Homo sapiens: one gene and its partner. The gene in region 1 interacts genetically with each later gene. Each region holds a gene or a part of one and is shown on either strand. Other genes may lie near its edges.

Region 1 (3,816 bases):
ATCTGTTGTCATCTGTTCCCCTGCTCCGTGGGAGCAGATATTTTTGTCTGTTTGGTCCACTGTTGCATTGCTACTGCCTAAAATAATAGCAGGGACACAATAGAGGCTTAGTATTGAGTCAATGTTCAAAGACTGTGGTTAATGGTGGAATAAACAAAACAAAATACATTACATTAAACAAAACACAGTCGTCCCTCAATACACACAGAGAATTGGTTCTAACACTCCCTGGTATACCTAAATCTGCACATACTCAAAGCTTGTAGTCTGCCTTGCAGAACCCACGTATAGGCGATCGCCCTCCATATACAGTGGGTTTCGCATCCCACCGGTCTTTTCCGTCCATATTTGGTTGAAAACTGCATGTCCGTGGGCCCTAGCCATGTGTTCAATGTACAGGGGCAGCTGTAATCCTTTCCTGAAGGACTTATTAAAGGTAGGTGCTAGGACCGGGCATGGTGGCTCACGCCTGTAATCCCAGCACTTTGGGAGGCCGAGGTGGGTGGATCATGAGGTCAGGAGATCGAGACCATCCTGGCTAACGCGGAGAAACCCCATCTCTACTAAAAATACAAAAAATTAGTCGGGTGTGGTGGCGAGTGCCTGTAGTCCCAGCTACTCTGGAGGCTGAGGCAGGAGAATGGCGTGAACCTGGGAGGCGGAGCTTGCGGTGAGCCGAGATCGTGCCACTGCACTCCAGCCTGGGTGACAGAGCGGGACTATGTCTCAAAAAAAATAAAAATAAAAATAAAAAAAGAGGTAGGTGCTAACCACATGCAGCTATCTATGTAAGCCAAAATAAATTGAACACTATTATAAATTCAGTTCCACTGTGCCACTGGCCACGTTTCAAGAGTTTGGTAGCAACATTGTGTCTGAAGGCTACAGTGCTGGACAGCACAGCCTGAGAACGCTGCCATCACTGTGGAAAGTTCTACTGGCCATGCAGTTAGAGTTCTCATATGCTCTGTGCAGCAGCATCACGATGCCGGAGGGGGCAATGCCTGCAGCCCTCACCTGGCCCAGCACCCCAGGGCCTACCCCACCGACTTGTCACTCAAGTGACCATGGACACCCATCCTCCTTTTGGGGAGCATCTCATGGGACTGATGGTCCAAGGACCAAGCCACCAGGGAAACGCTGGCAGTGAGGACTGAAAAATAGCAGTCGTTCCCCTTTGGGTTGATCCATGCAGTGCCAGGCTCAGTGCTGGCACCCAACACCTCATCTCGCTCGAGGGAGGCACAACCGGCTGATCTCGTTTTACACGGGAAACTGAGGCTGGGGACGGTCAGCGATCTACCCCAGGAAGCCCGGGCTGATTCTGACAGTGAGGACTTCCTGCCTCCCTCCCACCACCCTCCCAGGGGGTTGCAGGTGTTACCTGGAGCTCGCTCAGGGGACAATGGGGGTCGAGCCTCCACCTCCTTGGCAGGGGGCTCTGGAGACAGCAACATGGCCCCTTCCTGGCTCAGGCCTGGTTCCTCAGGCGGCTCCCTGGAGTCCGCTGGCTCTTCAACACCCACAGGCAAGGGGGGCTCGTCCAGCATGGAGGGCCGCTCCTCAGGGGCCACAGCCTCAGTCTCGATGTCCACCTCCTCTTCCATGCCCAACGAGTCCACTGCAGGTGCCCCCGGGGCCAGAGCCGCTTCCTCCCCGTCCTGCTCAAAGTCCTCAGGGCCTGCAGAAGCCATGCTTTCCTCGGCCACCATCTCCTCCTCCTCCTCTTCTTCCTCCTCTTCCCTGGCCACTACCTCCTCCTCATCCTCCGAGGATGAGGGCGAGGACTCGGAGCTTGACTCAAACTCAGAAGACTCGGAACTCTCACTGGACGACGTGGCTTCGGCCTTGGAGGTTACAATGCTCACTGTCTCCTCTGGATGGGGGACACAGACGAGGGGCTGCCTGAGGACCCGCTGTGCCCCAGCCCCCACCAGACCCCTCACCAATGGCCTCAAACTGGTGGCACCCAGGCTGAACACGGCCCTCAGATATGTGTGTGGGGCATGTGTTCACTAGGAGTCTTTTTTTTCTTTTTTTTGAGTTTTGCTCTTGTTGCCCAGACTGGAGTGCAGTGGCACGATCTCGGCTCACTGCAACCTCCACTTCCTGGGTTCAAGCGATTCTCCTGCCTCAGCCTCCCAAGTAGCTGGGATTACAGGCATGCACCACCACGCCCGGCTAATTTTGTACTTTTAGTAGAGACAGGGTTTCACCATGTTAGCCAGGCTGGTTTCAAACTCCTGACCTCAGGTGATCCACTTGCCTCAGCCTCCCAAAGTGCTGGGATTAAAGGAGTGAGCCACCACACCCGGCCGCTAGTAGTCGCTTTTAAAAACTGAGGTAAAATTAACATAACAGAAAACTGCTCACTTTTTTTTTTTTTTTTTGAGACGGAGTCTCGCTCTGTCGCCCAGGGTGGAGTGCAGTGGGGCGATCCCGGCTCACTGCAAGCTCCGCCTCCTGGGTTCACGCCATTCTCCTGCCTCAGCCTCCTGAGTAGCTAGGACTACAGGCACCTGCCACCATGCCCGGCTAATTTTTTGTATTTTTATTAGAGACGGGGTTTCACCGTGTTAGCCAGGATGGTCTCGATCTGTTGACCTCGTGATCCACTTGCCTTGGCCTCCCAAAGTGCTGGGATTACAGGCGTGAGCCACTGCGCCCAGCCAAAAACTGCTCACTTTGTAAAAAAAATTTTATTTATTATTTTTTTTGAGGTGGAGTGTCACTCTGTCACCCAGGCTGGAGTGCAGTGGCATGATCTCAGCTCACTGCAACCTCTGCCTCCTGGATTCAAGCAATTCTCCTGCCTCAGCCTCCCAAGTAGCTGGGATTACAGGTGCCCACCACCACGCCTGGCTATTTTTTGCATTTTTAGTAGAGACGGGGTTTCACCATGTTGGCCAGGCTGGTCTCGAACTCCTAACCTCAGGTGATCCACTCGCCTAGGCCTCTCAAAGTGCTGGGATTACAGGTGTAAGCCACTGCGTCCGGCCAACTGCTCGTTACAAAGTGATAATTCCAGCAGCATTTAGTACATTTGTAATGTTGCACAACCACCACCTCGATCTGGTCCCTAAGTATTTTTATCAGTTGAAAAGGAAGCCATGTAGGCTGAGCAAGCCCCCCTGAACACCGGGCTCCCCAGCCCTAAGGACCACAGACCTGCTTTCTATTTCTATGGACATGCCATTATGTTCACGGCACTCCCTGAAGATGGAACCGTACGCCACCCTGTGTGTGTGTTTTAACAAGGTAACGTCTCAAAAGCACAACATTTTGGCTCAGAAGTATTTCTGACAATTGCTCAGGCTCTGCCCCGGGGAAAGAGGGACTCCGGGAGGGCCAGGCAGCCACGGCCTCCCTGCTCACCTTCATCCGAGTCCCCTTCGTCCTTCTCACTCGCCTCTGACAGGGCTGTGTCCTCGTCATCGTTCTCAGACTCGTCCCGGTCATCACTGTCGTCATCGTCGTCATCCTGGGGGAGAAGGAAGAGTGGGGACAGGTGAGCCGAAGGGTCTGGCCCTCGTCGCCTGGCCCGGCCCCCTGAGGCTTCCTGGCCTGCTAGGCACCTTATCTGATGTGGATGAGGTTGAGGAGGAGGAGAGCTGGCTCCTGGGGACTTCCTCCTCCTCCTCCTCCTCCGCCTCCTCTTCCTCCTCGGTGCTCTCCTGTTCCTCCTCCTTGTCGGAGGCCGAGGACGAGGGTGAGGTGGTTGAGGACCCCGAGGATGATGACGCGGATGAGGACGAGGACGCCGACAATGACTCCTTCTCGTCCTCCTCCCCACCACTGTCCAGCTCCAGAGGCCGC
Region 2 (4,395 bases), on another chromosome or scaffold:
CTATATTCATGCCACATAAATATCTTTTCTCGAAGACAAAATTTTGAAAAACAGCTATTTAATTTTATACTCTTATTTCAACTTTCAGCATTGTGTTTATCTTTGCTGGCACATTAAGTCTTCTTTGGAAGGAGGTGGGTATATAAATTAAACCATTTGTTCTTCCTAGTACTTCATCAAGTAATAATAACAAAAAAAAGGAAATAAAAAAGAAGTTGCATTCCAAGAGAAGTTTATTTTTCAAATTTGCTAGCCCTATAAAGCACTTTAAAAAATAATGCTATTTAGATTATCTTCACTTCCAAGTCAGATTGTCCCAGAGAATGCAAATGTGCTACATTTGTTACTTCTCCTTACCCTGTTAATTTCTTGGAAGTTTAAAAAAAAAAAAAAAAAAGGATTACAAAATGAAGGACTTTACATTAAAATCTCAATACTGATCTCTTAGTCAGTTTAAAAGAAAAATCAAGTTTCACAAAATAAATACACTGAAGCAACTATAATAGTAATAACCTTTATTTAAAATAGATTTAATTTAGGAAAGCTCATTTTATATGAGTTTCCAACTAATTATTAGAGTCAGAAACAAAGAAAATAAAATCAGAGAAAATCCTCTGTAGAAAAAATACACAAAGAACATTTCTACATGTGAAAAAACAGTAAACAGTGTTAACATCCAAGTTATTAGTCTCAATTCCACGTCTCCTAGTGAACACCACTATCAACCTTGAGATCTGATTTGTTCTTGTCATTCTTCACTGAGTAGATGAAATATGTTAAGGTGTCTTTTTCATTCACTGGAATAGACCTAAAGTGGCAACCAACTATCTACAAAGAAAAGAAAAATTAAGGAAATTAAATTTTAGATATAACAGGTTTCATAAACTACGTAAAAAATACGGTTTCATCAAAAGAAAAAGTGCTATGTGATAAGGGCTATTTCCTTTAAAAATTATATTTAACAAAATATCAACAAGACAGAAAGCATTCAAGAATAAAATGTTACGAACAAGAGATAGTGTGATTTCAAAGGACCCTTTGACCCACTCAATTTAATATACATTGATTAGAAAATATATTTTCCTTTTATTTATTTTAAATTTTATAATTGGGCCAGGCGTGGTGGCTCATGCCTGTAATCCCAGCACTTTGGGAGGCAGAGGTGGGTGGATCACTTGAGCCCAGGAGTTTGAGACCAGCCTGAGCAACATGACGAAACCCCATCTCTACCAAAAAAAATACAAAAATTAGATAGGCCTGGTGGTGTACACCTGTAATCCTAGCTACTCAGAAGGCTTAGACAGGAGGATTGCTTGAACCCAGAAGGTGGAGGTTGCAGTGAGCTGAGATCATGCCACTGGACTTCAGCCTGGGCAACAGAGCAAGACTCTGTCTCAAAAAAAGATAAATAAATAAAATAAAAATAATAAATTTTATAATTAGAATCTAGAATAGGGAATAAATGATTTTACTTTTAAACTTTAAATGAGATAAAACAGACGTAAGAGATCACATGCATCATTAAACCTGCAATGGTTTAGACTCTACTGATAGAAAAAGAAGTATGAAGTTGAAAACTTTTGCTAGTAGAGAAACCAACAATAACATATAAATTGTTTGCTGCAAATTATATTCATTCATTCACACCTTGGTAGCATTCTTTGGTTAAGGTTCCTTGAAAATTTTTCTGAATAAAAATTATGAATGGAAATGAGAGGAGAAAGAGGGATGTTCAATGAAGGATGTTTACCTGCTTCCTTGCTTTTTCATTGTGCTAACATAACATGCATACTACAATTACTAATAGAAGAATAATAGACTTACCTGGGGTGCTGACATGCATATTTAGATTCCAGAAAATAAAATTTCTTAAGAAAAAAGTTCATCCACACAATAATTAAGAGACTTAAGACTTAGTCATACAACCCTGGATTCCCTTAAAACAGTGGTCCCCAACCTTTTTGGCACCAGAGATAGATTTCACGGAAGGCAATTTTTGCACAGATTGAGGGTGGCGGAGTTGGTTTTGGTATGAAATTGTTCCACCTCAGATCATCAGGCATTAGATTCTTATAACAAGCATACAATCTAGATCCCTCACATGTGCACTTCACAAGAGGGTTTGGACTCCTCTGAGAATCTAATTCTGTGGCTGATCTGACAGGAGGCGGAGCTCAGGCAGTAATGCTTGCTAGCTGGTGCTCACCTCCTGCTCTGCGGACCCGTTCCTAACAGGCCACCAACCAGTACCAGTCCATGGCCCTGGGGTTGGGGACCCCTCTCTTAAAATATATGTACTACATCTGCACATTCCTTAACTTGCTAATATCTGCATTTCTGATTAAGTAAAATATAACACTCATGGCTATCTCTTATGTATAAAAAAGAAAATAGCTCTGGAAATAATATAACTGTTCTTAGAAGGTCAGTTTATCAAAAATTACAGGTTTAATTTATACCTAAATATAACATTTAAAATAATCAGTTCTTTGGTTCTCATTTGTCCCAAAACAGGGGTGCCTTCACTCCATTAGTACCTATTGAAATATTTCATCATGGTGGGCAATAACTATATTTATGTTACATTAATGTATTGTACAACCCCAAAAGAACTTGATCTTTTAAATCAAAATTAAAGAAAAATTAATTAGATCTGTGTTGCCCAACCAAGGATAAAAAATTTTAGCTAAATAGTTAATATATTAGATTTTAACAATGTTAAAAAGCATTCTGCCAAATAAATGTAACTTCTATTCATATTTCATTTTATTCAATAGGCACATTTTAGAAAATGTTGGGTAACTACTAAATCCATGCAAAGAATATGAGAAAACTGATTTATATTTCTACACTTCTATTTTGTCTAGTAGGCCAAATTTTCTTTTTTTAGAGATGGAGTGTTGCTATGTTGCCCATGGTGACTCAAACTCCTAGGCTTAATCAATCCTCCTCAGTAGCTGCAAGTAAAAATTTTTATTTTAAATATGATTAAAATATATATATATAAATCTATAAACATCTTAATAAGATGCACAGATTTCTTGGTTCTATTATATCCTGAAAACATATGCATGCTCCGTTAACTTTTCACAACTCAGTGACTGACTAGAAGTCCTCTATCAAAGCAAACTACAAGTAAAAGCTTGGGTAAAAGAAAAGCTTTTGCCTCTTCTAGATGTGAAAAAAACATGGATGTCTCTAATAAAACAAACATCAACAAGGACAAATTTTGAAATAGTTAAGTCAGCAAATTATAAAAATACTGTTTAGGGTCTGATTTGTAGGCCTATTCCACCACTTTAAAATATAAATTCTAATAAGGACATTAAAGCTTGTTAATTAATTTTATTATGCCTCAATTAGGTGCTCAAATGTTTACTGGTTAAACGGAGTTTTAAAATTAATAGATTTCTAAAGTGAGGATTAAAAAAACTCTCATTCAACATTTTGAGGGCCAGGCACGGTGGCTCACACTGGTAATCCCAGCACTCTGGTAGGCTGAGGTGGGCAGATCACTTGAAGTCAGGAGTTTGAAACAAGTCTGGCCAACATGGTGAAACCCTATCTCTACTAAAAATATTATACAAAAATTAGCCTGGTGTGGTGGTGCACACCTGAAGTCCCAGGTACTTGGGAGGCTGAGGCTGGAGAATTGCTTGAACCTGGTAGGTAGAGGTTTCAATGAGCCAAGATCATGCCACTGCACTCCAGCCTGGGTGACAGAGTGAGATTCTGTCTCAAAAAACAATCAACACATTTTGAAAGCCAGTATCAGAAGGTGCTGTACACAATCTACTAAGCAGTCATTACAAAAAGGAATTTCCTAAGTGGCAGACAAACATTTCTACACAACTAGATTCTTCCACAACAGATTTTTTAACTTTGTTCTTTCTAATTAAAATGTACTGTTACATACACTACATTAAAACTTCCATTAGCACTTAATAACCTCTCGGTTGTGCAGATAGTTCAAATAGTTTAAAACTCATATATACCTCAACAAGTTGTGCTTTATTAAGTCCTGGTCTGGTTGGTAGCTTGAAGTGTCTTTTGTATCTCCTAAGTGTATTTACTTGTAATTGGTATAAATCAACCTAGAAAAAATTAACATGTATAAATGAGTTCATACAATTTGTTGAAAATTTATCATTGATATGTATAATAACAAACATTTTAACTTCAGCACAATAAAATTTACTTCCAAAATCAAAAAAAATTTAAAAAATTTATATAATCCAACATAAATTATTAAAGAATTTAATCTTTTGGGGATAAATAATATAAACTGAGGTCAAAAAAAGAGTAAGTTATGTGACAACAGAGCTGCAAAAATTGTCAATCTAAAATGTAACAATTCAAACTGTGTAAATGCATGTCAACTGGCTATATTTAATT

The links.
Region 2: changes in SETD1B (region 1) and SAP30 together harm fitness more than expected from each alone (negative genetic interaction), as found in Homo sapiens cells (one large-scale study listed by BioGRID).

The regions. Positions count from the first base shown.
Region 1 is NC_000012.12:121,817,464-121,821,279, reverse strand, and holds part of SETD1B (histone-lysine N-methyltransferase SETD1B), read right to left. Parts: coding exon 3,576-3,816; intron 3,482-3,575; coding exon 3,376-3,481; intron 1,877-3,375; coding exon 1,385-1,876; intron 1-1,384. UniProt on the Homo sapiens protein: Histone methyltransferase that catalyzes methyl group transfer from S-adenosyl-L-methionine to the epsilon-amino group of 'Lys-4' of histone H3 (H3K4) via a non-processive mechanism.
Region 2 is NC_000004.12:173,373,638-173,378,032, reverse strand, and holds the end of SAP30 (histone deacetylase complex subunit SAP30), read right to left. Parts: intron 4,095-4,395; coding exon 3,996-4,094; intron 829-3,995; coding exon 706-828; 3' UTR 501-705; downstream 1-500. UniProt on the Homo sapiens protein: Involved in the functional recruitment of the Sin3-histone deacetylase complex (HDAC) to a specific subset of N-CoR corepressor complexes. Capable of transcription repression by N-CoR.